Linked DNA regions of Homo sapiens. The protein of the gene in region 1 purifies or fractionates together with the protein of each later gene. This does not show direct contact. Each region holds a gene or a part of one and is shown on either strand. Other genes may lie near its edges.

Region 1 (7,692 bases):
AATTCTCCTGCCTCAGCCTCCCTAGTAGCTGGGATTACAGGCGTGCGCCACCACGCCCGGCTAATTTTGTATTTTTAGTAGAGGTGAGGTTTCTCCATGTTGGTCAGGCTGATCTCGAACTCCCAACCTCAGGTGATCTGCCTGCCTGCCTTGGCCTCCCAAAGTGCTGGGATTATAGGCGTGAGACACAGTGCCCAGCCATGAACTTCTATGATCTTTGAGCAGAGGGGGTCAAGTTGCAAGTCATGGCCAATTTCAGGAATTATAATTTCAGGAAGAATAATTTATTCATATTAATAACAAACTGCGTTGGGGAAACATAATTGGAATTCAGAGGAATCCTGGGAAAAACCAAGAAGGATGAGCTGAGCTTCATTCCCTATGAGATCACACTGCTGTGGCCTTGCTTGTATATGTTACCTCATCTTCACTTTGGCCTCAAAGACAAGGAAATAAGGTATGGTCAGAGATACTTGGACTTGATCCTGAATGAATGAGGCAGAAATTTATCATCTGCTGTAAGATCATCACATGTATAATAAGTTTCTTAGGCCAGGTGCAGTGGCTCACGCCTGTAATCCCAGCACTTTGGGAGGCCAAGGCAGGCAGATTGCCTGAGGTCAGGAGTTCGAGACCAGTCTGGACGACATGGTAAAACCCCACCTCTACTAAAAATACAAAAATTAGATGGGCGTGGTGGCAGGTGCCTATAATCCTAGCTACTCAGGAGGCTGAAGCAGAATTACTTGAACCCAGGAGGTGGAGGTTGCAGTAAGCCAAGATTGCACCACTATACTCCAGCCTGAGCAACAAGAAAACTCCATCTCAAAAAAAAAAAAAAAGTTTCTTGGATGAGCTGGGATTCCTAGAGCTTGAAACTCCCATGAATGAACGTCATCCCAGGGGAGCTATGACCAAGCCTTTCATCACTTATCACAACAAGCTGCACATGAACTACTCTAGAACTCTACCATAAGATGCTAGTGGTTGGTGGCATTGACCAGGTTTATGAAATTGCATTCCAGTTCTGGAATGAAGGAATTGATTTGACGTAAAATCCTGAGTTCAGCACCCCTGAGTTCTACATGGCCTAGACTATCACAATCTCACGGAAATCACGGGGAAGATGGTTCCAGGGATGGTGAAGCATAATACAGGTAGTTACAAGGTCACCTACTACCCAGATGTCCCAGAGGGATAAGCCTGCAATATTGACTTCACCCTACCCTTCCGGAGAATCAGCATGATAGAAGAGCTTGAGAAAGCCCTGGGGGTGAAGCTGCCAGAAAATAACCTATTTGAAACTGAAGCAATTGGCAAAATTCTTGATAATATCTGCGTGCAAATGCTATTGCGTGCCCTCCACCTAGGACCACAGCCAGGCTCCTTGACAAGCTTGTTGGGGGAGTTCCTGGAAGTGATTTGCAACAATTCTACATTCATCTGTGATCACCCCCAGATAATGAGCCCTTTGGCTAAATGGCACTACTCAAAAGGTCTGACCCAGCGCTTTAAGCTATTTGTCATAAAGAAAGCGATAAGCAATGCCTACACTGATCTAAATGATCCTATGCAGCAGTGGCAGCTTTTTGAAGAACAGGCTAAGGCCGCAGGTGATGATGAGGCCCTGTCCGTAGATGAAAACTTTGTTGCCGCCATGGAATACAGGCTGTCCCCCACAACTGCCTGGGGCATGGTTATTGACCGAGTCACCATGTTTCTCACAGATTCCACCAGCAACTCGGAAGGCTGAGGCAGGAGGATTGCCTGAGCCCAGGAGTTTGAAGTTTCAGTGAACAACACAGTGAGACCCTGTCTCTAAAAGGAAATTTTTTTTTTTTGAGACAGAGTTTCGCTCTTGTTGCCCAGGCTGGAGTGCAGTGGCACGATCTCAGCTCACTGCAACCTCCGCCTCCCGGGTTCAAGCGATTCTCCTGCTTCAGCCTCCCAAGCAGCTGGGATTACAGGTGTGCACTGCCACACCTGGCTAATTTTTGTATTTTTTATAAAGACGGGGCTTCATCATGTTGCCCAGGCTGCTCTCGAACTCCTGAGCTCAAGCAATTCACCTGCCTTGGTCTCCCAAAGTGCTAGGATTACAGGCGTGAGCCACCATACCCAACCTTTTAAAATTTTTTTCTTTTCTTTTCTTTATTCCTTCCTTCCTTCCTTCTTTTCTCTTTTTTTAATCTTACAAAAAATGTTTCGGAAAAGGTATTTTATTTTTAAGACAGGGTCTTGCTCTTTCCCAGAGGCTGGAATGCAGTGGAGCGACCATAGCTCACTGTGGCCTCTAACTTCTGGGCTCAAGCAATTCTCCCACCTCAGCCTCCTGAGTAGCTGAGACTACAGACATGTGCCACCATGACCAGCTACTTTTTAAAAAATTTTTTTGTAGAGAAGGGGTCTCACCATGTTTCCCAGGCTGGTCTTGAACTCCTGGCCTCAAGCAATCCTCATGCCTTGGCCTCCCAAAGTGCTAGGATTACAGGCATGAGCCACCATCTCTTGTCCCCTGAGATACTTTTAATGGCCTTGCTGGATCCAGCTCCTGCACCCCAGGGCCCTCCTGCCTCCTCCCCACCCTCGGCTGATGGCACTACCTCAAGGACATGGGATAGCATGCAGCCTTCTGTCCCAGATCCTCTGTACTGTCTGAAATCAGGCAGAACCCAGCTGCAAGAGGAACTCAATGGTACACATGGGACCCAAGTCATCAATCGTCTCCATCAGAAAGCAACCCAGGGCCAGGCACAGTGGCTCAGGCCTGTAATCCCAGCACTTTGGGAGTCCAAGGCGGGTGGATCACCTGAGGCCGGGAGTTCAAGGCCAATGTAGTGAAATCCCGTCTCTACTAAAAATACAAAAATTTGCTGGACATGGTGGTGCATGCCTGTAGCCCCAGCTACTAGGGAGGCTGAGGTTGGAGAATTGCTTGAACCTGGGAGGCGGAGGTTGCAGTGAGCCAAAGTGGCACCACTGCACTCCAGCCTGGGCAACAGAGCAAGATCCTGTCTCAAAAAAAAAAAAAAAAAGAAAAGAAAAAAGGCCGGGCGCAGTGGCTCATGCCTGTAATCCCAGCACTTTCAGAGGCCAAGGCTGGTGGATCACCCGAGGTCAGGAGTTCGAGACAATCCAGCCTCATCAACATGGTGAAACCCCATCTCTACTAAAAAAAATACAAAAATTAGCCAGCCTGGTGGTGCATGCCTGTAATCCCACGTACTTGGGAGGCTGAGGCAGGAGAATCGCTTGAACCTGGAAGGTGGAGGTTGCAGTGAGCCGAGATCGTGCCCTCGCACTCCAAAAAAAAAAAAAAAAAGCACCCCAGGAATGTTGGACAGAGAGGCTGGCGGGGTAGGGGTTGGTTGGTAAGGCTTGAGCAGAAGGTTCTAGATGCATTCAGGAGATAAAGATGCATTTGGGGTTATTGCACTTCTCCTAGAAACATAAACATTGACTTCCTTTTGTGGAAGAAAAATGTTATGTTAGCTATTTGACGTTTCAGGAAGGGTGGCTTCAGCTTGGTGATTGGAGGATGTTTGTCTACAGTGGCCAGGCTGCTTTCTGGCTTGGAAGACTATTGTTTCTTGGGAATTGTCTGTATCAGACATCATGGGAGCAGATCCAGGGCGACATCAAAGGGAAGCATGAGTCTCCAGGACCAGAGGGGCTTGGATGCAGATGATCATCATCTGGGCACTGCTGGATACTGAGTAAGCCCCAGCTGCACCCCACCTCTGCGCTCTGAGCATGGGAGGCAGCCTGTGCAGCTATAACTCAGCCTGACTTTTTCCTTCCCTGCATACTCTTGAAATACACTGGAGATGAGTAGGGGCGAGTGAGCTGCACACCAGAATAAGTTTGGTCCTTGGAGCAAACTGTTTCTACTGCTGCCTCCTCTGCAGGTCTTGATTTATGCAAACACTGCATAGAAGAGGAAGTAGAGGGAAAAGCTGTTCACCCACCTACTCCTTCCTGGTAGCAAGATTTCCTATCCTGGCCTTGCCTCAACAGCCCTACCAATTGGAGGCTGAGGTTGTGCCAAGGCTCTATGGGGGGACGTAGCATCACTGAGGTGGCCAGATTTTGGAGGACAGGAAAGTTTGTGCTATTTGCTGAGACTGGAGAGGCTGGTGAGAGCAGACTCTCCATGAGTTGAAAGCCAAAGAAAGAAATTCGGTAGATTTCTGCAATGAGAAGCCACGGAAGAACTTCAGGCAGGAGGATGCATTGGATCTTGTTTTCGTTTTGTTAGAGATGGGGTCTCACTCTGTCGCCCAGGCTAGGGAGCAGTGGTGCCATCGTCTCTCACTGCAACCTTAAACTCCTGGGCTCAGGCGAACCTCCCACCTCAGCCTCGTAAGTACCTGGAACCACAGGCATGCACCACTTTTTTTTTTCCTTTTTCTTAGAGTTCTCATTATGTTGCCTAGACTGGTCTCAAACCTCCGGCTTCAAGAGATCCTCTCACCTCGACCTTCAAATTACTGGGATTACAGGCATGAGCCACCATGTCCTACCAGACTTTGTTAAAAGAGGAACAGGCCAGGCATCGTGGGCTCACATGAACACTCATGCCCCAGAAGTAAACAAGTGTTAGCCAACCAGGAGGCCTATCCTCCCCCTAACCTCACCCAAAGCCATCTCTGTGCCCTCCCCCTTGCAGGGGAAACAGCACACACTAGTGAAATCTTGTCTTAGTGTGTCCGGAATTGGTGGGTTCTTGGTCTCACTGAGTTCTAGAATGAAGCTGCAGACCCTCGCAGTGAGTGTTACAGCTCTTAAGGTAGCGCGTCTGGAGTTTGTTTCTTTTGATGTTTGGATGTTTGGAGTTTCTTCCTTCTGGTGGGTTTGTGGTCTTGTTGGCTCAGGAGTGAAGCTGCAGACCTTCGTGGTGAGTGTTACAGCTTTTAAGGCAGTGCGTCTGGAGTCGTTTGTTCCTCCCAGTGGGCTTGTGGTCTCGCTGGCTTCAGGAGTGAAGCTGCAGACCTTCGCGGTGAGTGTTAAAGCTCATAAAAGCAGCATGGACCCAAAGAGTGAACAGTAGCAAGATTTACTGCAAAGAGCAAAAGAACAAAGCTTCCACAGTGTGGAAGGGGACCAGAACAGGTAGCCACTGCGGGCTCAGGCAGCCTGCTTTTATTCTCTTATCTGGCCCCACCCACATCCTGCTGATTGGTAGAGCCGAGTGGTCTGTTTTGACAGGGTGCTGATTGGTGCGTTTACAATCCCTGAGCTAGACACAAAGGTTCTCCACGTCGCCACCAGATTAGCTAAATACAGAGTGTCGACACAAAGGTTCTCCAAGGCCCCACCAGAGCAGCTAGATACAGAGTGTCAGTTGGTGCATTCACAAACTCTGAGCTAGACACAGGGTGCTGATTGGTGTGTTTACAAACCTTGAGCTAGATACTGAGTGCCGACTGGTGTATTTACAATCCTGAGCTAGACGTAAAGATTGTCCACGTCCCCACCAGACTCAGGAGCACAACTGGCTTCACCCAGTGGATCCCGCACCAGGGATGCAGGTGGAGCTGCCTGCCAGTCCTGCGCCATGCGCCCGCACTCCTCAGCCCTGTGGTGGTCGATGGGACTGGGCGCTGTGGAGCAGGGGGCGGCGCTCACCGGGGAGGCTCCGGCCGCACAGGAGCCCATGGAGGGGGTGGGAGGCTCAGGCATGGAGGGCTGCAGGTCCCGAGCCCTGCCCCCCCGGGAAGGCAGCTAAGGCCCGGTGAGAAGTCGAGCGCAGCGCCTGTGAGCTGGCACTGCTGGGGGACCCAGTACATCCTCCGCAGCCACTGGCCCGGGTGCCAAGCCCCTCATTGCCCGGGGCCAGCAGGGCCCGCGGGCCGCTCCGAGTGCGGGCCCGCCAAGCCCACGCCCACCCGAAACTCCAGCTGGCCCGCAAGCGCCGCTCGCAGCCCCGGTTCCCACTCGCGCCTCTCCCTCCACACCTCCCTGCAAGCTGAGGGAGCTGGCTCTGGCCTTGGCCAGCCCAGAAAGGGGCTCCTACAGTGCAGCGGTGGGCTGAAGAGCTCTTCAAGTGCCGCCAAAGTGGGAGCCCAGGCAGAGGAGGCCCCGAGAGCGAGCGAGGGCTGTGAGGACTGGCAGCACGCTGTCACCTCTCATTAGGAGCTGCCAATATCAGTGGCACAGACCTGAGCACAGGGATAATTTGGGGTCAGAGGCTACAGTCTAAGTTAGCTAGATGCTGGCAGTGGGCAGAGTGGAAACAAGGCAGAGGCGGGGAAACTCAGGGCCTGACTCCAGAGCCGACCTTAAGTGTCACCGCTGATTCCTCCTTACTGTCTCCCACCAACCCTGCTTCAAAGCATCTCCAAATCCTGGGTTCAACTTCCAAACATGTCCCAGGAATGTCTCCTTCCTGTTCCCACTGCTTCTCCCCCTTACAGGCCCCTTCATTCCTTACCCCTCCTGATCTCCTGGCCTCCAGCCCATTCCCTACAGAAAAGCCATACCTATTTCTTCCATTTTAAAAAATGTGAGCTGGGCGCGGTGGCTCATGCCTGTAATCCTAGCACTTTGGGAGGCCAAGGTGAGTGGATCACGAGGTCGGGAGATCAAGACCATCCTGGCTAACACGGTGAAACCCCGTCTCTACTAAAAATACAAAAAATTAGCCGGGCGTGTTGGCGGGCACCTATAGTCCCAGCTACTCGGGAGGCTGCGGCAGGAGAATGGCCTGAACCCGGGAGGCGGAGCTTGCAGTGAGCCGAGATTGTGCCACTGCACTCCAGCCTGGGCGACAGAGCGAGATTCCATCTCAAAATAAATAAACAAATAAATATAAAAATAAAAAATTTGGCCAAGGGTCGGGGGTGGCTCATGCCTGTAATCCCAGCACTTTGGGAGGTCAAGGCAGGCGGATCACCTGAGGTCAGGAGTTCGAGACCAGCCTGGCCAACATGGCAAAACCCCATCTCTACTAAAAATACAAAAATTAGCCGGGAGTGGTGGCATGCGCCCGTAATCTCAGCTACTCGGGAGGCTGAGGCAGGAGAATCACTTGAACCCAGGAGGCAGAGATTGCAGTGAGCCAAGATTGCACCATTGCACTCCAGCCTGGGCAACAAGAATGAAACTCTGTCTCAGAAAATAATAATAATAATAATAATAATAATAATAATAATAATAATAATATCATTATCTATTTTTTTACAGACAGGGTCTTGCCCTGTCACCCAGGCTGGAATGCTATGGTGTTATCATAATGCTCACTGCAACTACAAGTGTGGGTGTGTCTGTGATTCGCTTTGTATGGTCCCCTCAAGGCCACATTTGAGGACTGAAGTTGCATATCATGGAAAATTGTGTTGTCTGGCTTATCTCCTACAGAGACAGTGCTCACTTTTACTGGCTCAACTCAGCCTGCCTCTGCTGAGCTAGCAGGTACCCCAAGTCCCAGGAGGTCAGACATTCGGGCTCTGGAGAGAAGCTTAAAAAAAAATGCAAAAAGTTGGCCGAGTGCGGTCGCTCACACCTATAATCCCAGCGCTTTGGGAGGCCGTGGTGGGTGGATTACCTGAGGTCAGGAGTTCAAGACCAGCCTGAACAAAATGGAGAAACCCCATCTCTACTAAAAAATACAAAATTAGCCAGGTGTGGTGGCACATGCCTGTAATTCCAGTGACTTGGGAGGCTGAGGCAGGAGAATCACTTGAACCCAGG
Region 2 (7,594 bases), on another chromosome or scaffold:
GAAGCCATGCAAGTTTGGTGGAAAGGGCCCCGAGATAAAAAGGCCCCTTGGCTGAGATTTGTTTTATTATTAGTTAGCCATGCTACCGGGCCCGTTACTTTCCCTTTGAGTCTCACTGTTTAAAATCTCTCACATGACATTTTGGGCTGGATGGTTTAAAAATAAATACAATCTCTCAAGGACTTCACATTACCTACATTGTAAACTCCAAATGTTTAGCCTCAAGTACAAGGCAGGCCCTTTGTGATCTTTGTTACTTCTCCAGGCTCCTGTGCAGCAGAAGCCTCACCATCAGTGACGTTTGGGGCAGCAAAGGAAGCTATTGCTCCCTTTGAGCATATTCTCCAAATGTGGCACCTTTTCGCCCACAGTCCGTGACTCAAACAATGAGAATTAGTTTTTCTTCTCAAACTCATACTTCAGTAGAACTTACCTACTTAAATAGTTCGGAGATTAAGCGTGCTATTTTACACCTGCATGCCTTTGAACATACATTTTCCTAGAATATCCTCCACCAACGAAGTGCCTACTATCTGTCAGGCTCAGATATATGTGCTGGAGTTGCAATGGTGCAAAGTCACTCCCTGACCTCAGGGAGCTCATAATAAAGAAGGAACATGTGAAAAGTAAACAAGCCGGGTGTGGTGGCTCACACCTGTAATCCAAGCACTTTGGAAGGCCGTAGTGGGAGGATCATTTCAGCCCAGGAGTTCAAGGCTGCAGTGAGCTATAATCAAACCACTGCACTCCAGACTGGGTGACAAAACTAGACCCTGTCTCTAAAAAAACAAAAAACAAAAAAAACAGACCTTGACACCATGAAATTAAGTGCCCTAAACGAAGTGACTTTCGTGTGTTGCTGGGGTACCTAGGTGGAGACCTCACTTGGCATAGCATAATTAAGAGCATAACCCCAGTTCTATGCTTCATTGTGTGGCCTTGGGCAAAGTACATGTTCTCCTCTGTAAAATGGGAATATAGTTACAAAAAGAATACAGTTAAATGACTGTAAAACCCTTCTGTATGAAGCAAAAGAGTTATTTATGGGCCGGGCACGGTGGCTCACGCCTGTAATCCCAGCACTTTGGGAGGCCGAGGCCAGCGGATCACGAGGTCAGGAGATCGAGACCATCCTGGCTAACACGGTAAAACCCCGTCTCTACTAAAAATACAAAAAATTAGCCAGGCATGGTGGCGGGCACCTGTAGTCCCAGCTACTCGGGAGGCTGAGGCAGGAGAATGTCGTGAACCTGGGAAGTGGAACTTGGAGTGAGCCGAGATCACGCCACTGCACTCCAGCCTGGGCAACAGAGCGAGACTCCATCTCAAAAAAAAAAAAAAGTTATTTATGATTGTGGATCACATAAAAAGCACTCATTTGGCTGAGTGTGGTGGCTCATGACTGTATTCCCAGCACTTTGGGAGGTGGAGGCAGGTGGATCTTTTGAGCTCAGGAGTTCAAGACCAGCCTTGGCAACATGGCGAAGTCCTATCTCTATTAAAAAAAATACAAAAATTAGCCGGGCGTGGTAGCGCATCGCTGCGGTCCCAGTTACCCAGAAGGTCAAGGCTGCAGCAAGCTGAGATCGTACCACTGCGCTCCTACCTGGGCAACAGAGCAAGACCCTGTCTCAAAAAACAAAACACAACAAAGAAACAGATTCAAGCGCCTGTGCCTCCTGGGAGAAATATGCTTCTCCTTTCCCAGCCTCGTTTAAAAATGTGTGGTTACAGATAACAATATTTATTATGCTTTTTCATTTATGCCATCACATTAAACTCCCCACCCCCAACAAACTCCGAGGTGAGGATTATTACCATTTTGCAGATCAGGAAACTACGGTGACAAGCAGCTCTGGGCAGCTCTGTTGCCTAGGCTGGAGTTCAGTGGCACGATCATGGCTCACTGCAACCTCGACCTCCTGGGCTCAAGCGATCCTCCCACGTTGGCCTCCCAAGTAGCTGGGACTACAGGCAAGCACCACCATGCCTGGCTAATTTTTGTTTTTTTTTTTCAGAGATGAGGTTTTGCCATGTTGCCCAGGCTGGTCTGGAACTCCTGGGTTCAAACGATCTGCCCACTTTGGCTTCCCAAAGTGCTGGGATTACAATTCCAGGCATGAGCCACTGCACCTGGCTACAGTTTTTAAATTTTACATAGAGATGGTGTCTTCTTATGTTGCCCAGGCTGGTCTCAAACTCCTGGGCTCAAGAGATCCTCCTGCCTCGACCTTCTGAAATCCTGGTATTACAGGTGTGAGCCACCATCCCTCCCCCTGCCCACCCTGCCCTGGGTTTAGCCAGAGAAAAGAACTCGGGATGAGGGGAGAAGAAACAGGGAAAGAGAAATGGGAAAATGGGGGAGAAAAGGAGGTGAGTAAAGAGAGAGGAGAAAGGGACTGGCTAAATTTGAAAAAAATCACAGAAGGTCAGTGCTGGAAACAAGAATATTTGGCTTAGACTCTGTTTAAATTATGAAGAAACGGAGACCCAAGGAAGGAAATGTCTCTTGGAGAATTACCTAGGAACTTAGTAACTGAAAAGGATCTGGACCTGCAGTGTTCAGTATGGTAGCCTCCGGCCATATGTGGCTATGGAGCACTTGAAATGTGGCTAGTCTGAATTGAGATTTGCTGTTAAGTGTAAAATACACATCAGACTTCAAATATTCCATATAAAAAAAGAATGTAAAGTATCTCATCAATAATTTTTCATATTGACTCCATGTTGAAATGATTGGGATATATCTAATAATACAATAAAATATTAAAATTAATTTTACCTTTTTTAACTCTAAAAAATGTGGTTACTAAAAAATTTTAAACAACATATATGGCTCACATTTGTGGCTTGCACTAGATTTCTACTGGACAGCGCTGGTCTAGAAATCTTCTGACCTTGAGCTAAGTGTATCTGCTGTTTCCCAGTCTCTTCCAACAAGTCATTTACAACCTATCATGTGCCAGCTGATGAGAACAGATTCAGTTGCAGTCTAAGGATGAGACTAAAACAGGGATAACAGGTGCTGGTAGGCAATATCAGTGAGTTCTATCTTATATACTCCTAGAATGGTATCTATAAGATATACATACAAGATATTCTTGAGTGGTTCTTAACTTTACCAGCCCCAATGTTCCATTTTAATAACATTTTTATAACTCCCCATTTACTATTGTGAAATGAAGTTTATAGATAGTATAGCCTAACTACATACATAATTTCAAAAAAAATTATAGTGTCTGAACCAAAGCAGAAAGAATAAAAGGAAATCCTTTATAATAAGATAATACTTTTCAGTATGCTAGAAAGCATAATTAGTCAGATGCTAGTAGTTATGCATAGGAGCACCTTGAATGTGACAGTACAAATGCAGACTGAACGCTATGAATAACACTGCTATCAGTGACCCAGTTCTCCAAAATGGTGAGTAATTCCTAATAAATTCCTGAACACAACAAAGTATAATCTTCCTTCTGTTAACATGGTGGTTACATTCCTTAAAAATTCAGCACATTTTACACCCCTACAAGATTACTTTGTTTTTTGTATATAAGACACAGGCACATCAGATGATTATAACCAGTTTTTTTTTAACCTATATGAATATTCAGTAGGACATGTGAAAGCTGTGTGGGATCAGGACAGTTTTCTTGTGTGATACCATCTTGCAATGTGCAAGACATGGAGCCTCCTTGGCTCCTCTCCCCCAATCATTTGACAACAAAATTGCCCCGAACATTTCCAAATTGCTCCTTAGGGAGGGTGCCATTCTGGTTGGGGAACCACTGTGGTGGTCTGAATGCTTTACCTGTTCCCTGTTCCCCAGCCTTACCTTGGGCTGTTCTCCCCTCACCAGGCTCAAAGATGCCCTGGGCCTTCCCAGTTCTTCTCCAAGCCAATCTCTTTCCTCTCTCAGGACATTCTGGTGCTCTTTTCTTTGCCTGGAAAACTGTCCACTTCATGTCTGGATAACTTTTCCTGAACCTTTGGATCTCAGCATTGCCAAATTCCCAGTCTAATTTAATACTTTGTTTAGTTTTTCCACAGGACTCTGTGCTTTTCTGCAATGGTACTTATCAGACTGGGATTTCTACCTGTTTTATTCTTGCTATGTCAAGCGTGTTTATTACCTGTCTCCCTCAACTTTCAGTTCCCTGAGAGCAGGGACCATGCCCATCTCGTCCACCGCTTGTTTACCCAGCACTCACGAAGATGCCCGGAACTTAGCATCCTTAGATGAACGTACGTGCCTGGCAAACAACAAACATTTCTTAGGCAACTGAAAGGCTGATGGGATTCCACAGCCAATTGGGAGAAAAGCGCTCTCGAGGGTGGGGGTATGCTTTTTCCAGGGCAGATGGTGTTCAGCCCAAGTTACGGGGCAGCTTTGGTCCACTCTGGATTTGCCTGGATTCGCGTATGTGGGGGCGAACGCGTCTTATCGGGGGGCGGCCGGTTGGGGCCAGGCAGCCCGGATCCCAGCCGAGGAGGTGCGCGGTGCTGAGAGGCCGTGGGAGCGACCATAGAGAACGCGCGGGCGGAGCGAGCGGCCGGATGCGGTCACCATAGAGACGGGTGACTGACAGGCAGCGGAAGAGGAAGCTGCGGACAGGGGCTGTGAGGTGGCAGCGGCTGCAGCGGCGGAGCCGGCGCCTCAGCGGGCACTGGGGTCTGTTCCCCCTTCCCCGTCCCTGCTCCCTGCCAGGCGCGTGCGGGACGCCGCTCTTGGTCCCCACGCCTCCGCCCCGCCCCCTCCCGGGACGCCGGGAGACCCCGGCCGTCCTTTATCCGGTGTCCGCCGGCCCCCGGCCCTGAAACCCGGGCCTCCTCCCCGAGGGCCTTGGGCGTCCCTCCTGGTCCTGCGCTCGCGGCCTCGATGCTGTCTCTGGCGCGGCCTCCGCTCCCGCCGACTGGCCTGAGAACGAGGTCTGTGCCCCAGTCTCCCAGCCGCGACCTCCGACCCCGCCTCGCAGAACGACCCGAGCTGGTCTCCCGAGCCCCCTTCTCAGCAGCCCGGTGACGTGGCCAGTTTATTTCTGTTTTGAGACGAACGGCGAAGACTCGCGTCGGGTCTTCGTTCTAGGGCTAGACTTGGTCTCTGATCGCCGAGAGGTAGCGCAGGGGCTGTGGGCCCCCGGCAGGGGTCCTGTCGGAAGCTGGCCGCGCTTCTGTTTGCGTTCCCAGGACCCTGGCATTGTCTCTAGTTGCTGCTTGTGCTCTCTCTTTGCTTTTGGTTTGCTTCATTTGGCCCCTGGGGCCCTGGTAAAACCAGGCACCGAATCGCTCGCACACAGAGTTCCAGTCCCCGCCTGCTGTCTCCTCAGCAGCTGGGGTTCCGAGGAGAATGCCCTGCAAGATGGCTCCATCGGCCATGGCGCTCCTGAGAGGCTGTCAGTGCTGAGTCACCGATCTACCTCATTCGGGTGGGCAGAACTTATGTGTGCCATGCGAGTGGCTCCAGACCGCTCCTGAGTGGGAGGAGGGGTTCCTGTAGCCGTTGCGTCTTCTCAAACACGGGGAGCAGAGTAGAAAGAGGCTCTGGCCCCTTCCCTTGTGCCCACCGGGCCTGCCGCAGTGGCTCAGCAGCCCCTTCAGTAGCCCGCCTGAGGACCGATGCCAGAGGCAGGCATTCTTCCGGAAAGGCCCACTGAGGCAGGCTCCGGCTCCTCTGGTTGGGGCTGTTGTTTTGATGGATCGTGTGCTTTTCCCTTACCTCTTATCACTTGCTGTCATCTGTTGACTTAGGCCCAGTCTGCAGATGTGTGTAGTGTTCCTTTTTGGGTTAGCTTTGGCAGTATTGAGTTTTACTTCCTCCTCTTTTTAGTGGAAGACAGACCATAATCCCAGTGTGAGTGAAATTGATTGTTTCATTTATTACCGTTTTGGCTGGGGGTTAGTTCCGACACCTTCACAGTTGAAGAGCAGGCAGAAGGAGTTGTGAAGACAGGACAATCTTCTTGGGGATGCTGGTCCTGGAAGCCAGCGGGCCTCGCTCTGTCTTTGGCCTCATTGACCCCAGGTTCTCTGGTTAAAACTGAAAGCCTACTACTGGCCTGGTGCCCATCAATCCATTGATCCTTGAGGCTGTGCCCCTGGGGCACCCACCTGGCAGGGCCTACCACCATGCGACTGAGCTCCCTGTTGGCTCTGCTGCGGCCAGCGCTTCCCCTCATCTTAGGGCTGTCTCTGGGGTGCAGCCTGAGCCTCCTGCGGGTTTCCTGGATCCAGGGGGAGGGAGAAGATCCCTGTGTCGAGGCTGTAGGGGAGCGAGGAGGGCCACAGAATCCAGATTCCAGAGCTCGGCTAGACCAAAGTGATGAAGACTTCAAACCCCGGATTGTCCCCTACTACAGGGACCCCAACAAGCCCTACAAGAAGGTGCTCAGGTGAGAGCAACATGTGTGCATAGTCCCCAGACACTGGCCCTGTTTTGGGCTGGTGTAAATCCTTGCCTCTGCCTTTCCATTGGCAATCGGCGTCGGGCGACTTGGAGCAATTCTGGCTTATTTTCCATCATGGTTTCTTTCTGTTTTTTCCCTCCTTCTCAGGTCTTAGAAAGTCTCACATTCATTGGTGTTAAATTAGGGTTCGATGTTTTTTGTTTGTTTTTGTTTTGTTTTGAGACGGAGTCTTGCTCTCGTCGCCCAGGCTGGAGTGCAATGGTGCGATATTGGCTCACTGCAATCTCTGCCTCCCAGGTTCAAGTGATTTTCCTGCCTCAGCCTTGCGAGTAGCTGGTATTACAGGTGCACACCACCACGCCCAGCTAATTTTGTATTTTTAGTAGACATGAGGTTTCTTCATGTTGGTCAGGCTGGTCTTGAACTCCTGACCTCAGGTGATCCACCTGCCTCGGCCTCCCAAAGTGCTGGGATTACAGGCGTGAGCTACCGTGCCCAGCCAGGGTTCGATGTTCTTGAACAGAGGAGGAATTGCATCTAACCTACCTAATCTATCCTTGGTAGACTCCCTCCCCTCCCAAATCAATTCGTGTCAGCTACTTAGTGGATACTCAGTTCAGTACCTAATTAATATTGACAAGGAAGGAAGTTTCTCCCTTCTCAGCCCCAACTCACTCCTAGAGGGGGATGTATATTCTGAACAAGCTGGGTTCCTAAAGATTAGGGAGTTGACCTCTGGCACACTGGTCTTTCCACAGGACTCGGTACATCCAGACAGAGCTGGGCTCCCGTGAGCGGTTGCTGGTGGCTGTCCTGACCTCCCGAGCTACACTGTCCACTTTGGCCGTGGCTGTGAACCGTACGGTGGCCCATCACTTCCCTCGGTTACTCTACTTCACTGGGCAGCGGGGGGCCCGGGCTCCAGCAGGGATGCAGGTGGTGTCTCATGGGGATGAGCGGCCCGCCTGGCTCATGTCAGAGACCCTGCGCCACCTTCACACACACTTTGGGGCCGACTACGACTGGTTCTTCATCATGCAGGATGACACATATGTGCAGGCCCCCCGCCTGGCAGCCCTTGCTGGCCACCTCAGCATCAACCAAGACCTGTACTTAGGCCGGGCAGAGGAGTTCATTGGCGCAGGCGAGCAGGCCCGGTACTGTCATGGGGGCTTTGGCTACCTGTTGTCACG
Region 3 (7,928 bases), on another chromosome or scaffold:
GGAGGCTGCAGCTTCTGGTCCTGGACCGGGACTTAGGTCCACACCCACGTGCTGACGTCGGGCAGGCTCAGCGGCCTCCCGCGCCTGCGCAGCACCGCCCTTTTCGGGCGCGGCGCCCAGTCCCTACACCCCACAATCCCCCGCGCCGTTCCGGAGGCGCGCTAGGAGTGGGTGTGGCCTCTGCCTCCACATTGGAACAAGGTGAGGCAGAGGGTGTCGCGTGGTCTTCTGGGAAATGTAGTTCGTCTGCCAGGCCGGAACCACCGCTCAACCGGCTCGCGAGACTATGCACCCCACAATGCGCCGCGCGCGCAGCGGCTAAGCGATGCGTTGCTGCCTCCACGTGGTGGCTGAGTGATCATGCTCCGGTTTGGGAATGGGGCCCAGAAGGGTAGGGTTAGGGGCGGGGACGGTGCTGGGGATGCTGAGGGTCGCCCTGGAAACCTCTGGGAAGATTTTCCAGAGGGTAAGTCCCCTGAACCTGGCCCACGAAAGGGTAGTAGTAATGAAGAAATTGGAGGTGGGGCCCGCTATGAGGACCGAATGACAGAGCAGCACCTGTTGGCTGCATATGATAATCAGGCTACTGTTACACCTAAGACTCACACAGTAGGCACTTCCTAGGCCACTTACCGCTCCCTGCGCTTCAGGTATCTTAGCCCATTCAATCCTCCCAGCCACCATTCGAGATATTATCAGCCCTCCTTTCTAGGAGTGAAGCTGAAGCCCAGAAACGCGAATCACTTGCTCAAAGTTATTCAACATGTCAGTGGCAGAGCTGGGATTTGAACTAGGCTGTCGGGCTACCAAGTCTGGGCTCTTCTTCATAGGAATATCTCATCACCCTATTCAGTTATCCTAAAATTGTAATTAGCACATGAATCAAGTCAAGATGGTCATTAACATGTGAATCTCTTTGAGTCGCTGATTACCAGCGCTTGTTCCTGCCCAAATTTGTGACTTAGACCTGCTTCAGGACAAAGTTGACAATCAACATAGATTTATAGTTAGCACATGAATCAGCACAGGTTTCTGTTCACAGGGATCAGATTTCTGATTAGCACTTGAATCAGCAGTGGTTTGTGTCAACAGCTGGAGTCTTTAGGTTCCTGATTTGCACAGGGATCTCCATCCAGGGATTATTTTCTTGCCTAAATAGGCCTGTTCCTTTATGTCCAGGTGACCTTCTCTTCAAATGTTGTCCCAGCTGGGTGCAGTGGCTCACGCCTGTAATCCCAACACTTTGGGAGGCTGAGGCGGGAAGATTGCTTGGGTCTGGGAGTTTGAGACCAACCTGGGCAACATAGCGAGACCCCGTGTCTCCATGAAAAATAAAACAATTAGCCTGGCATGGTGGCATGCTCCTGTAGTCCCAGCTACTTGAGAGGCTGAGGTGGGAGGATCCCTTCAGCCCAGGAGTTTGAGGCTGCAGGGAGCTATGATCATGCCACTGCATGGCAGCCTCAGCGACAAAGCAAGACCATTTCTCTTAAAGAAAAAAAAAAAAGGGCGGGCACAGTGGTTCATGCCTGTAATCCCAGCACTGTAATCCCAGGTTGAGGTGGGCGGATCAACTGAGGTCAGGAGTTCGAGACCAGTCTGGCCAACATGGTGAAAACCCATCTGTACTAAAAATTTTTTTAAAAATGGCCAGGCACAGTGGCTCACGCCTGTAATCCCAGCACTTTGGGAGGCTGGGGTGGGTGGATCATCTGAGGTCAGGAGTTTGAGACCAGCCTGGCCTACATGGTGAAACCCCATCTCTACTAAAAATACAAAAATTAGCAGGGCATGGTGGCACGTGCCTGTAATCCCAGCTACTCGGGAGGCTGAGGCAGAAGAATCGCTTGAATCCGGGTGGCGGAGGTTGTAGTGAGCCAAGATCATGCCACTGCACTCCAGCCTGGGTGACAGAGCGAGACTCCGTCTCAAAATAAAAATCAGCCAAGCGTGGTGGTGCATGCCTGTAATCCCAGCTACTCAGGAGGCTGAGGCAGGAGAATAGCTTGAACCCAAGAGGTGGAGGTTGCAGTGAGCCGAGATCATGCCACTGCACTCCAGCCTGGGCGACAGAGCAGGACTCTGTCTTTAAAAAAAAAAGAGATGGGGGCTGGGCGCAGTGGCTCACACCTGTAATCCCAGCACTTTGGGAGGCCGAGGTGGGGGTATCACCTGAGGTCAGGAGTTCAAGACCAGCCTTGCCAACATGGTGAAACCCCATCTCTACTAAAAATACAAAAATTAGCCGGGCATGGTGGCACATGCCTGTAATCCCAGCTACTCGGGAGGCTGAGGCAGAAGAATCGCTTGAATCCGGGCGGCGGAGGTTGTAGTGAGCAAAGATCACGCCACTGCACTCCAGCCTGGGTGACAGAGTGAGACTCCGTCTCAAAATAAAAATCAGCCAAGCGTGGTGGTGCATGCCTGTAATCCCAGCTACTCGGGAGGCTGAGGCAGGAGAATAGCTTGAACCCAGGAGGTGGAGATTGCAGTGAGCCGAGATCATGCCACTGCACTCCAGCCTGGGCGACAGAGCAGGACTCTGTCTTAAAAAAAAAGAGATGGGGGCTGGGCGCAGTGGCTCACACCTGTAATCCCAGCACTTTGGGAGGCCGAGGTGGGGGGTATCACCTGAGGTCAGGAGTTCAAGACCAGCCTTGCCAACATGGCGAAACCCCATCTCTACTAAAAATACAAAAATTAGCTAGGCATGGTGGTAGGTGCCTGTTATCCCAGCTACTTGGGAGGCTGAGGCAGGAGAATCACTTGAACCAAGGAGGCAGAGGTTGCAGTGAGCCAAGATTATGCCACTGCACTACAACCTGGGCAACAAAGTAAGACTCTGTCTAAAAAAATAAATAAATAAATAGGCCGGACACTGTGGCTCACGCCTGTAATCCCAGCACTTTAGGAGGCCGAGGCGGGCAGATCACGAGGTCAGGAGATCAAGACCATCCTGGCTAACATGGTGAAACCCTGTCTCTAATAAAAATACCAAAAAAATTAGCTGGGCATGGTGGCAGACGCCTCTAGTCCCAGCTACTCGGGAGGCTGAGGCAGGAGAATGGCGTGAACCCGGGAGGTGGAGCTTGCGGTGAGCCAAGATCACACCACTGCACTCCAGCCTGGGCAACAGAGCTAGACTCTGTCTCAAAAATAAATAAATAAATAAAATAATAATAAAATGGGGTTATTTGTTTTTTGCTTGTTGCATTGTTTAAGTCCCTTATAGACTGAATTCCTCTTTATGTCTCTAAATACATTTGTCTCTTTGGTACACATCTGCGGTGCTACATGCCCTCAACCCACCAGGTTTTAGCATAGCTGTTGTGGTAGACAGTTCCGTGTGCAGTGCAGATAGCCCTGGTTCAGCCCAGCTGTTCTCAAAATGTGGTCCCTGACCAGGTGTAGTGGCTCACACCTGTAATCACAACACTTTGGGAGGCCTGGGAGGGAGGATTGCCTGAGGCCAAGAGTTCAAGACCAGCCTGGGCAGCATATTGAGACCCTGTCTCTACAAGAAATTTTAAAAATTAGCTGGATATGGCGATGCATGCCTGTAGTCTCAGTTACTCTGGAGCCTGAGGTGGGAGGATTGCTTGAGCCCAGGAATTTGAGGTTGCAGTCAATTATGATTGCACCAATGTACTGGGTGACAAAGCAAGACCCTGTCTCAAAAAAAAAAGTATGGTCTTTGAAAAGTCACATTAGCATCACCTGGGTACTCGTTAAAAATGCAAATGTTTGGGTCCCACCTCAGACCCACTGAACCAGAAACTCTGAGGTTGGGACCTGGAGATCTATGGTGCCCCCGGGTGATCCTGGTGGGCTGCACTGCAAGGACACCTGGCCTGGCTCCTGCAAGGCAAGGCATCCCTCTCTGCTTTTCTTTCTTTCTTTCTTTCTTTTAAAGACAGAGTCTCACTCTGTCACCCAGGCTGGAGTGCAATGGCTGGATCTCAGATCACTACAATCTCCACCTCCCGGGTTCAAGCAATTCTCTTGCCTCAGCCTCCCGAGTAGCTGGGATTACGGGCGTCCGCCACCACACCCGGCTAATTTTTGTATTTTTAGTAGAGACGGGGTTTCTCCATGTTGGCCAGGCTGGTCTCCAACGCCTGATCTCAAAAGATCCGCCCGCCTTGGCCTCCCAACGAGCCGGGATTACAGGCGTGAGCCACCGCCCCCGGCTGTCAGTGTGTCTTGAGGTCTTTCCCTAATCCCAGATGGCACAAGTTTTCCCTCTTGCAGGCAGAGAAAGGAGCCTTGGGAAGGAGCCCCTCTGGCCTGAAAGATCAAGCCTATTGCTGGGCATGGCCAGGTAAGGAAACTCCAACCGTGGAAAGGACATTCCAGGGAGGTGGTGCTGAGATAAGGGGGGCAGAAAGAGACAGGTTTGGGGGGCCAGTGGCTCTGGAATGAAGCGCTACACTCAAGGCTAGGAATAGTTACTGAATGCACATACACACATACCATTCTCACAGCCCAGGTGCTGCGTCTTAGAGCGTGTGAGTGTGTATGTGTGTGTCTGTGTGTGCGCGCGCACGCACGTCTCTATCTCTGTTTCTGTCTTTCTCTGACTTGTCCTTATCTCTTGTCTCTCCATCACTCTCTGTGTCTCGCTGTCTCTGTGCATTTCCATGTCTCGAATATGTGTGTGTTTCAATCTGTCTCTCTGCCTCTTTCCATTTTCTCCTCTCTATCCATCAATCTAAGCCTGCCCATCTTTTTGTCTGCCTTTCTGTATCTCCGTTCTTCTCTGTCTCTCTGTCTCAGTCTCTCTGTATCCAGGGATTCTCTTTCCCAGCAGCGCCAGTGCGACTCCATGGGAGGTGGGGCCGGGGCGCGTCTTTGAGAGAAGGGGCGGGTGCCTACGCCTTTAAGCGCGGGTGCGCGCGGAGCCTGCGCCTTTAAGCGCCGGTGCGCGCGCTGCCCTGGGTTGCCGGCGAGGAGGCCGCGGGAGCGCCTGGACCCGGCCCGCCCAGCCCGGCCCCCGCCCGGCCCCCGCCTCGGCCCCGGCGGGGGAGGGGTCTCTGAGCGCGGCCCCTCCCCCCTGCGCCCCCGCCTGCGCTGCGGTGCCCCCATCCCGCGTGTCCCAGTCTGTCTGACCGTCCCTCCGCTCCCAGGCCTCGCCCCACCCGGCCCTGGGGCTGCCCGGTCGCCCCCCTCCCCACCGCAGCCGGTCCCCTCCCTCCCAGTCAGCCTCCGCCGCAGCCCAGGAAGCCAGCCGGGACGCCGCCGCCCCGGACCCCGCGCCCTAACCTCCACCTCGGGGGCCTGCACCCCCAGATTGAATCGGGAATTCCGGAAACCCGAGCCTGGAACCCTGATCTGGGACCAGCACCCCGAGATCCGGCCGTGGAACCCCAAGATCTGGAGCCTGAACCCCAGTATATGGGGCTGGAATCTCAACATCGGTCACTGGGACCTCAATATTTGGAGCCGGAACCCCACAATTTGGAACACAGACCCCAATATTTGGAGCAGAACCCCAAGATTTGACATCTAAAACCTCAAGCCTGGAGCTGAACTCTGAATTCTGGGCCTGGGACCTTGAAATCTGGGACTGGATTTCCAGTACTGTACCCTGGAACCCACTCTTGGGGACCTGAACCCTGGGATTCAGGCCTCAAATTCCAAGATCTGGACTGTGGGATTCCAAGGGGCCTGAACCCGAGTTTGGGCCTGAAGTCCTTGCTGCAGACCTGAGTGCTTAAATCTGGGGCTTGAGACCTCCCAATCTTGACTCAGCACCCCAATATCTGAATGCAGAACCCCGGGATCGGATCTCAGACTCTAAACCCCACCGTTTGGCTGCTTAGCATCCCAAGACTGGACCTGGGAGACCCTGACCCTGAACAACCCAAACTGGACCCGTAAAACTGGACCCTAGAGGCCCAATATTTAGGGGTCTGGAACCCCGAGTATTAAGGTCTGGAGACTCCGTTGCCACAGATTTGAGCCGAGTCAGGACACAGTCCCTCTACAGAAGCCTTGGGGACAGGAAAAGCATGACCAGATGCTCCCTCCAGAGCCCTGACCTCTGACTCCCCTGGAGCTAGGACTCTGCTCCCTGGGGCTGCTTCTAGCTCAGGTAAGGCTGCTGAAACCTCAAGGTGGGGACGGGCTGGGAGGAGCATTGTGGCTGCGGGTTACGGTACCAGGTACCCTTTGACACTCTTGGGGTTTCTCCAGAAAAAAAGACATTCCCCCATGGGTCTGCCTTCAGCTCCTGCTCTGCTCCAAACACTCTCTGGACACTGGCCATCCTTGCCCCTCTCTGACCTTCCCTGCCTCAGTTGATGGGACCTCCAGGTCTCTGACCCCTGCAACCCTTACAGCCTTTCGCTGTCTATCCGGTCCGACCGTCTCCGCCACCTCTCTTGTCCACCACTCCTCTCTCTGGGCTCCTTTCTCCACCTGTCCTCTCAATGGCCATCTCTGTTCCCTTTTTCTCTCTCTGATCATCTTTGTGACACCCCTGTCCACAGGTCCTCTCTCCAGTCGCCTCTGCCTGCTGCTTCTCAGTGACCATCGCTGACATCTGTGTCCACTGTGCCTCTCTCTAATCATCATTCACCAGCTCTCTTGCTCCTTCTCCACCCCTGAATCTAAGCCTAGGTCTGTGACCGTCCCCATCCATCTTTGACATTGCTGTCCACCACTCTTCTCTCCAGCAGCCTCTGTCCATCTCTCCTCTCTAGCTTCCTCTGGCCACCTTTCCCTTTCTCTGGCCATCTCTCCCACTGCTCTTGCCCTCCTCCCACCCCTGACCCTAACTCCCAGTCTGCAACTGTCTGACCATCTCTGGCCACCTCTCCTCTCTCTCTCACTCACTGATGCCCTCTGATCATCTCTGGCCACCTCTTCTCTCTCTCTCACTCATTGATGCCCTCTTGATCATCTCTGGCCACCTCTTCTCTCTTTCTCACTCACTGATGCCCTCTTGATCATCTCTGCCCACCTCTTTTCTCTCGCTCGCTGATGCCCTCTGATCATCTCTGGCCACCTCTTCTCTCTCTCTCACTCACTGATGCCCTCTGATAATCTCTGGCCACCTCTCCTCTCTCACTTGCTGATGCCCTCTGATCATCTCGAACATCTCTGCTGCCTTTCCTCTCTCCGATGACCTCTCCCCGCACCATCCTCCTGAGCAGCTGTCCTGGGCTCCCACTGACTCTGCCATGTCTGTCCTTTTCCTCCTCTCTGACCACCTTGCTGGCTTTGGGCCGTTTCTGACCACGTGTCTCTGACATGGTCATCTCCCCCAGATCTGAGCCCAACCCATGCCCTCCCTTCTCTTTGTCCACTGCTCATCTTCCTGACCATCTGTAACCCCTTCTCTTCTCTGGTCATATCTGACCACTTCTGATCATTGTTGCCACCCTGGCTGCCCCGTCTCCCCATGGCCAGCTTTTACCATCTCTGACCACGTCTAAAGCCCTCTGGTTTTCCTGCCACTCACCCAGACCAGCTGTCATTTCTCTGACCATTTCTTTACTTTTTTCTTTTGGAGAGACAGAGTCACGCTCTGTTGCCCAGGCTGGAGTGTGGTGGCGCAATCATAGCTCACTGCAGCCTCAAATTCTTGGGCTCAAATTGATCCTCCCACCTCAGTGTCCCATGTAGCTAGGACCACAGGTGGGCGCCACCATGCCTAGCTAATTTTTAAAAATTTTTGTATAATAGATACACGGTCTCACTTTGTTGCCCAGGCTGGTCTTGAACTCCTGGCCTCAAGCCATCCTCCTGCCTCAGCCTCCCCAAATGCTGGGATTACATGTGTGAGCCACCGCGCCTGGCCTTCCTCTGGCTTTTGGTCACATCTGACGGTCTTTGACCAGCCCTTCTGCCCTCAGCCCACTGTGACCTTCTCTCCTGGTCTCAGACCACCCCCAGCCCCTGCAGAACCCCTCTTCTGCCCTCAC
Region 4 (7,584 bases), about 46 Mb from region 1:
CTTTATATTTATAGTATATAACATGATATTCACTGCATCCTTATGAAATAGGTAACCATTATTATTATTTCCATTTTACAGATGAGGAAACAGACATGTAGAGGTCAAATAATTTGCCTCAAATTGCATAATCAAGAAGCATAGAGCCCAGCTTAAAACCCAGATAGTCTGGCTCAAAGTGCAGATGATAAACTACCATGCTAATGAGTAGCACTGGGAGTTCTCCAATGAAGCACACGATGTTACTTGTATTTGCTACTAACGTCTTCTTTTTTTTGAGATGGAGTCTCACTCTGTCACCCAGGCTGGAGTGCAGTGGTGTGATCTCAGCTCACTGCAACTTCCACCTCTCAGGTTCAAGCAATTCTCCTGCATCAGCCTCATGAGCAGCTGGGATTGCAGGTGCAGGCCATCACCCCTGGCTAATTTTTTTTGTATTTTTAGTAGAGACCGGGTTTCACCATGTTGGCCAGGCTGGTCTCAAACTCCTGACCTTGTGATCCACCCACCTCAATCTCCCAAAGTGCTGGGATTACAGGTGTGAGCCACCGCACCTGGCCAACTACTAACATCTTCTAACCCCTGGTTCAATTCTGCTACTTGAGGCTTTTTTTTTTTTTTTTTTTTTTGAGATGGAGTTTCACTGTGTTGCCCAGCCTGGAGTACAGTGGCATGATCTCAGCTCACTGCGGCCTCTGCCTCCTGGGTTCAAGCGATTCTCCTGTGTCAGCCTCCTGAGTAGCTGGGATTACAAGCATGAGCCATGGTGCCTGGCCTAGGCTACTAATTTTTTTTTTTTCAAAGCTGTCTGCAGTTTTGCCTTGACTTAGAATTCATCAACTGGAGCCCACAGTGATATCATTGCACAGGATTGAAGTTGTATCAACTAAATTCAGATAAAGATCTCCTACGTTAATTAATTAAACAAATTGTTGAGTACATTTGCTAATTTTGTTAGAGGTGCTCATTGCTTAATAACTACAGGACACATTCTATTGAATATACTGGGAAAAAGCTGTATCTTTCTCTGAAGGTATACAAAACAATATTAAGAAGCATAAAAAATATCTGTCCATAAAAACATGATTATGGCCAGGTGCAGTGGCTCACGCCTGTAATCCTAGCACTTTGGGAGGCTGCAGCAGGCGGATCACGAGGTCAGGAGTTTGAGACCAGCCTGGCCAACATGGTGAAACCCCATCTCTACTAAAAATACAAAAAATAGCCAGGCGTGGTGGCAGGTGCCTATAATCCCAGCTACTCAGGAGGCTGAGGCAGGAGAATTGCTTGAACCCGAGAGGCAGAGGTTGCAGCAAGCCGAGATCGTGCCACTGCACTCCAGCCTGGGCAACAGAGCAAGACTCCATCTCGGGAAAAAAAAAGTGATTATATGAGTTATTTTTATTTTTATTTTTTGATACAGGGTCACCCAAGCTGGAGTGCAGTGGCACAATCTCAGTTCACTGCAGCCTCAGCCTCCCAGGCTCAGGTGATCCTCCCACCTCAGCCTCCTGAGTAGATGGGTCTACAGGTGCATGTCACCACGCCTGTCTTATTTTTGTATTTTTTGTAGACACGGGGTTTCTCCATGTTGCCCAGGCTGGCCTTGAACTCCTGGGCTCAAGCCATCCACCTGCCTTGGCTTCCCAAAGTGCTGGGATTACAAGCATGAGCCACCCTGCCTGGTCTATATGAGTTCTTTTTAAATCATTATCTCTTCAAGGAGATAACAATCATCAATAGGTTTTGTACAGATCCAAACTCTCTGCTTGTGGATTCTCTTAACATGATACTTTGTAATTGAAAAGAGAATATGAAAATGCCAAGCTTTGTAACTTCAAAGAACAACAATAACAAAAAGCCTTTGCCTAGAGATCTAGATAGGAAAGTGATCCCGCCAAAATTTTGGGCCTGTGTACAGGGCTGTGACCCAAGTGGGACACCTGGGGTCAATGAGCAGAGTTCGGTGCAGAGGGTCATTTGTGTATCTTTTGAATATTACTAACTGCATCTCAAGATCATGTTAGAACGAGTATTGGCTATTTGGCTTTTTGTGTCATCTTGCCCCTTCCCGTCTCCATTATGGAGAATTGAGGTTTTAATATACGGTAGTGACATTCTAGTAGATGAAGGAAGGGGGCTGTCCCCAGTGGGCAATCTGAACTTCTGCTTCGTATATTTACTCTTGCTGTTTTCGTTTCTCCTCATTTGTAATTCAGGAGGCTCTCTGAGAAGAGACAGCAAAGCTTCTTAGATGGATCGAAAGACCACGAGCTGGGATACCAAGTTCTATGAAAAGGTCAGCTATTGAATTTACTCTGCTACCTTCAGGCAAATCATTTGATCATCGGATGCTCTGGTTTCTTCCTGTGCCTGCTAAATGTAAATAGCATGGGTTTGAGTGTTTGGTGGTTATTATAGAGTATTTTAAATGTATGAGTGATTTATTTTTCTAGGCCAGCTGCTCAGATATAAAACAAAATCTGCTCCTTTGAGCTGTTAGGCTTCGTGGCAGTCAACTGACCCCAAAATCCTTCTGACTACAGCAGCCATCTACTTGCTTGTTCATCTGATAACATTTTGCAGTCTCTCAGCTACAGCTATGTGGTCTCACTCTATAGCTGGGGCATACCTTTTTGTCTCCTTTGTCTTCAGAAAGGAAATATGCCATTTTATGCACTCCTGCTGCTTTCACCCCCACTTTAAAAAGATGAAGGCTTCCTTTTGTGACAGAGTTGCTTTGTCTGTTACACTGATCCTAAGAGACAGGAAGGAGAGGTGTCATAGTAAATAAACAGTTATTGGACTTGCTACCATAGTTCCTTTTTGATGACTTGGGCCAGGACCACTAGAGGTTTGAACTAGATTTAGTAAGGCTTGGGCTTTTCGGGGTTTTGGCAGGAAGCAGTCAGGGAGTATATTGGAAAGAGAGAACACAAAATACCGAACCCCACCCACCCTGTGCCTTTTTGTTTGTTGTTACAGCCTGTTACATTAGGCAACAAGATATCCTTGTTAGCCAAAGGTGCCAAGCTGAGATTCTTAAAAGCTAATGAAAGAGCTGTTGGGCCAGGTGCGGTGGCTCACGCCTGTAATCCCAGCACTTTGGGAGGCCGAGGCAGGCGGATCACGAGGTCAAGAGATGGAGACCATCCTGGCCAACATGGTGAAATCCCGTCTCTACGAAAAACACAAAAATTAGCTGGGCATGGTGGCGCGCACCCGTAGTCCCAGCTGCTCGGGAGGCTGAGGCAGAAGAATTGCTTGAACCCGGGAGGCGGAGTTTGAAGTGAGCCGAGATCGAGCCACTGCACTCCAGCCTGGAGACAGAGCGAGACTCCACTCCGTTTCAAAAAAAAAAAAAAAAAAAAGCTGTTGGGTAAGGAATGATTTTGTTCCCCATCTGTGGCTCACCACCCCACTGTTTCATAAATGAAAATCTCTGATGTGCAACGCTGAATTAACCAAAAGGCTTACTTCTTTTGTTTTGAACTTAGACACATTTACATTATTTCTGGTGCAGTTAAATTAAAAGCACTTTCCAAACAAACCTAGGAAAGTATTAAAGTTAGGGACTCCCACGAAATGTTACTCCTTAATTGTGGCTTGGATAATAGCAGGAAGAACTGCAGACAGGAACACAGTGTAACTAACCCTTCAGTTCTGAAATGTTGCTAGGTCTCCTCGTGTTATAAATGATCAAATAAATATCCGGGTTAAACACTGCTCCCAGAGCTGAGTTCACTCTTAAGAGTGTTGGGTCCAACTTCCCTGTGCTAATTCAAGGAAACAAGGCAGCCAAGGAGTCTAACTTGAGGTCTTCATTCTTGGGCAGGGCCATCAATACATCTAAAACATTACTTGTGGGTACCCCAGCTGCGGTAGCTTCCCCAAAAGGCAGAATTTTCACTCATTCTTTATAGAAACACGTAGCCAGCAACTTCTCAGGCTTGGGGAACGGGGCAGGCGGGTCGTGGTGGTGGGGAGAGTAGAGGAGGGAGTCTGGCAGGTCGGTTCTAAATGTAAACTGGAAACTACGCATCCGAGCGGGCAACCATCACTGGCACCATTCGTCTCCGGGAAGAACCTGTGTGTGTCAGGATGCACGAAAGGAATGACTCCCCTCTTTGCGCCCCCGGGGTTAACTGCACGACCCTGTCAAAGTCCCGCCGTGGAGTGGGATGAGGGTCGAGAGGTAACCCTGTCAAAGTCCCGCCGTGGAGTGGGATGAGGCGAGGAAAGACTGGAGGTCCTTCCAGCACCACCTTGGAGGGGCAGGGAGGCTGCAGTTACCGCCTTCGGAAGTGATCTCCTCAGCCCTCAAAAAAATTAAAACCACCTCCGCCATTTACTAGAGGCCAAGGCAGGGCCGGGACACGAGAACGCGCTCCGGGCGGATGCGCGCTCCCTTTGTCCCGCCTCCCAGCGGCCCGCTCATTGGACGGAGGGAGGGCGCCGGGGGAGAAAGCGACGCGGCCGCTCGTAAGTGCTCCGGATGGAAACTGGTGCAGGGGGCAGCGGCGTTCCGCGGCCGGAAGGGAAGGGGGAGGTGCCGAGGCTGCGCGCCGGCTGCTCCTCCCCACCCCCAGCCTTTGCCCTGAAGGGGGCTGGATGGGCAAGGCGGCCGCGATGGCTCGAGCTCGGGCGGTGGCGGCGGTGGCCGGAGGCGGCGGTGCCTCCTCCTCCTCGCCCCGGCGCCGGCGGTGATCCGAGCGAGCGGCCGCGGCCCCCGATGAGACTGCTGGCGGGCTGGCTGTGCCTGAGCCTGGCGTCCGTGTGGCTGGCGCGGAGGATGTGGACGCTGCGGAGCCCGCTCACCCGCTCCCTGTACGTGAACATGACTAGCGGCCCGGGTGGGCCGGCGGCGGCCGCGGGCGGCAGGAAGGAGAACCACCAGGTACGGGCTGGGGCCGGGGCCGGGGCGGGGGCGTGGCGGCCCGGCCTTCCCGCGCTGGGCCCGGCTATTGTGCGGGACGGCTCCGCGAGGGGGCGGCCCGGCCCTCGCCCCTCCGCCTCGGCCCCTTGGAAAGTTTTCCCCGCGCCTTCCCCGCCGGGCGTCGACTCCGCGAGCCCCGGGCACCCGGCCGCGGCCCCGCGAGCGCCTTTTGTTCCGCAGCGCAGGCGGGGCATGGCCTCCCGGGCCCGATCGTGAGCGGCCCGGAGCCCCGCATTGTTCCTGGGTCCCGGGCGGTGACTGCGGACGCCCGGCAGCGGGACTGGGGAACTTTGGGGCCAGAGCGTGGCTGGGGGCGCCCGCCTGGCACCGAGGCCTGAGACTGAAGAGACCCGGCCAGATCCATTACCCCGAGAAACAAAACGAAAAGCCAGCCCCTCTTGTTGTCTCGTTGAATCCCAGAACGTACAAAGGGTCGTGAAGAAATGTAACTGTACATCGCAAGCCATTGAACTCTCCAGGCTGATTGGGGTGACATTTCTCCCTAAGCACTTAAAAAATGGGTTTGACAGGTTGTCGCTCCCATCCTACGGAACCTTCCCCTCCTACCTAGCAGAGATCTCCTTTAAACTTGGATTTAGTCAGCCTGCTAGAAAGATTGTGTGTGATGAGGAGGAAGATTATGCAAGTTTTACAGGAAGGGTTTTTAAAACAGAACGGGACGGGAGGGAGTTTTAGTTATGCATCGTGAGCGTTACGCTGTGACCGGGTAGGTAGGCTTTTCATTAGCTCAGTCTTGCGCCACTTAAACGTGTACAGGTTAACTGTAGAATTAAGTGAGATATTTCGTATATGACCTTAACATAGTTTGCAGTTAATGTTAAATTCATTGAAAAGAGGCTTTTGAACTCTGCCAGAGTGTTGGCTTGTCATAGCTAGCATTTATAATACATTTTGCTTTTCCATAGAGTATTAATTATTCCCTATATCATCTTGTGTCTCATCATTTTCATATATTTCTCATTTTCCTACATTACTTTTTTATTATGCCAGGTGTTCAGAGAATTTACACCCAGGTTGATTTCATGTGTTTTAATGAGGGTAGAGAATTGTCTAAGAAGGAGATAGAGCAATTTAGAAAAGTAGCATTTAGTCTTTAGTAATATGTATATTGGGCTTTTTTCTATTGTTAAAGGAATCCTAAATTTCTGTAAATTTTTTTGAAAGCCTCCAGCCATTGCAGTTTGTTAGGTGCAATATCAGTATCATTGATCACTTGTATGATATGGTTAGGAATGTATGTAAACTTAAATTGCAAAACCACATTTATTCCTATGGATTATTTGCTTACACTAGTTCATTCTTATAGAGACAACTCAAAGGTACTGTACCGTTGACTGTACAGTTACCAGAATGTCACATATGGAACAATGGGGTAGACAATGAATTAGAAATGTCATTTTTAACATTTTTAAGCAGTTGATAGAAATAAGGTCCTGGATAGGAGAAAAAGCGATTTATCTCCATTGATGGGGGATTATGGTTGAGTCTCTTAGCTATTGGTATTTATAACACTTATCATGATTACCCCTACTGCAGCCACTTGGTAGGTTTTTAGTGCTCATAAAAGAATTGCACTTATTTTAAAATTGAAACACTATTTCAACACTGTGATGTGTATGGAGGCGGAATTGCAGCTGTAGACATAGCCTCAGAATATCTCCCAGCAGAGGATACTTTCTGACTGTACCTTTTAAAAGCTGAATCTGTTAAGTTCTAATGAAAACTAATACTGGTTTCAGATACGTTTATTTCAGATACCGTATTTATATTCTGTGTGTGTGTGTGTGTGTGTGTGTGTGTGTGTACCCCTTCACTAACAATTCAGCAGATAATTTCTTTAGGGTGAAGACTTAATATGGTGTTTTCTGAATATTTGGGGGATGGGTCAACTCTTTTCCTTAGAATAATGAATCCAGACATTATTTTGACATGAATACATTCATATTATGAAAATAATCGTGCATGAATAAAGATTAAAAGGAACAGAAGAAAGGTGTGTAGAAACCACCATGAGATAAAGTAGGAAACTGTCCTTTCTGCACTGTGGCTGGAGTTGATAATTTGTTTTCCACTTAATATTCCAGGATCCTGGGTTTGCCTTATAACTTCGTTGCTTGTGAAGTAACTGTAACTGTTTTTCCTCCTTCAGATTAATAGTTTTATACAAGGTCTTCTAAGTGTTCAGTTGGGTGTGTGAGTTCCATAGCCAGCCACATCTGGGCCTTTTGGAGTTGCATAAAAGTAGGGTTGTGGATTTGATTGAACCATACTTAGCAAAAGTGTTCCTTCTGGTTATTTTATTAAGGAATTATGATGGAGGATTCTGTGGTTAAAAGAGAGATCTTGGGCAATGTTTATTCGTTAAAAATGGCTATTTTGTTAGTATAGTTTGGAGAGGCAAGGCTCCTTTGGGCTAAAGCTGCTCTAAAACTGTAGTAGCAGTGCCATTTTAGTAACTTGGTTTGGTGTGCTAGCTTCAAAACTGGGATTATGTTTCACTTTGGGCAAGCAAGAAGCAGGGTTTCACTTAGAGCAGGGAAGTGGCTGGGAGGCCAGACTGGTCTCACAGACTTATTTTACAGCCTATGAAATAAGAATAGTTTTATATTTTTAAATGGTTACCAAGA

What was found.
Region 2: the proteins of DPEP2 (region 1) and CHPF2 purify together in Homo sapiens (affinity purification with mass spectrometry; 3 studies listed by BioGRID and IntAct, with this or other methods). This does not show direct contact.
Region 3: the proteins of DPEP2 (region 1) and LRFN3 purify together in Homo sapiens (affinity purification with mass spectrometry; 3 studies listed by BioGRID and IntAct, with this or other methods). This does not show direct contact.
Region 4: the proteins of DPEP2 (region 1) and METTL9 purify together in Homo sapiens (affinity purification with mass spectrometry; 3 studies listed by BioGRID and IntAct, with this or other methods). This does not show direct contact.

The regions. Positions count from the first base shown.
Region 1 is NC_000016.10:67,996,472-68,004,163, reverse strand, and holds the start of DPEP2 (dipeptidase 2 isoform 1 precursor), read left to right. Parts: upstream 1-4,679; 5' UTR 4,680-4,747; coding exon of another isoform or gene 4,748-4,789; exon of another isoform or gene 4,790-4,897; intron 4,898-7,692.
Region 2 is NC_000007.14:151,227,889-151,235,482, forward strand, and holds the start of CHPF2 (chondroitin sulfate glucuronyltransferase), read left to right. Parts: upstream 1-4,594; 5' UTR 4,595-4,876; coding exon of another isoform or gene 4,877-4,926; 5' UTR 4,927-6,123; coding exon 6,124-6,386; intron 6,387-7,159; coding exon 7,160-7,594. UniProt on the Homo sapiens protein: Transfers glucuronic acid (GlcUA) from UDP-GlcUA to N-acetylgalactosamine residues on the non-reducing end of the elongating chondroitin polymer. Has no N-acetylgalactosaminyltransferase activity.
Region 3 is NC_000019.10:35,931,462-35,939,389, forward strand, and holds the start of LRFN3 (leucine-rich repeat and fibronectin type-III domain-containing protein 3 precursor), read left to right. Parts: upstream 1-4,912; 5' UTR 4,913-6,094; intron 6,095-7,928. UniProt on the Homo sapiens protein: Cell adhesion molecule that mediates homophilic cell-cell adhesion in a Ca(2+)-independent manner. Promotes neurite outgrowth in hippocampal neurons.
Region 4 is NC_000016.10:21,595,002-21,602,585, forward strand, and holds the start of METTL9 (protein-L-histidine N-pros-methyltransferase isoform 1 precursor), read left to right. Parts: upstream 1-4,575; 5' UTR 4,576-4,732; coding exon 4,733-4,897; intron 4,898-7,584. UniProt on the Homo sapiens protein: Protein-histidine N-methyltransferase that specifically catalyzes 1-methylhistidine (pros-methylhistidine) methylation of target proteins.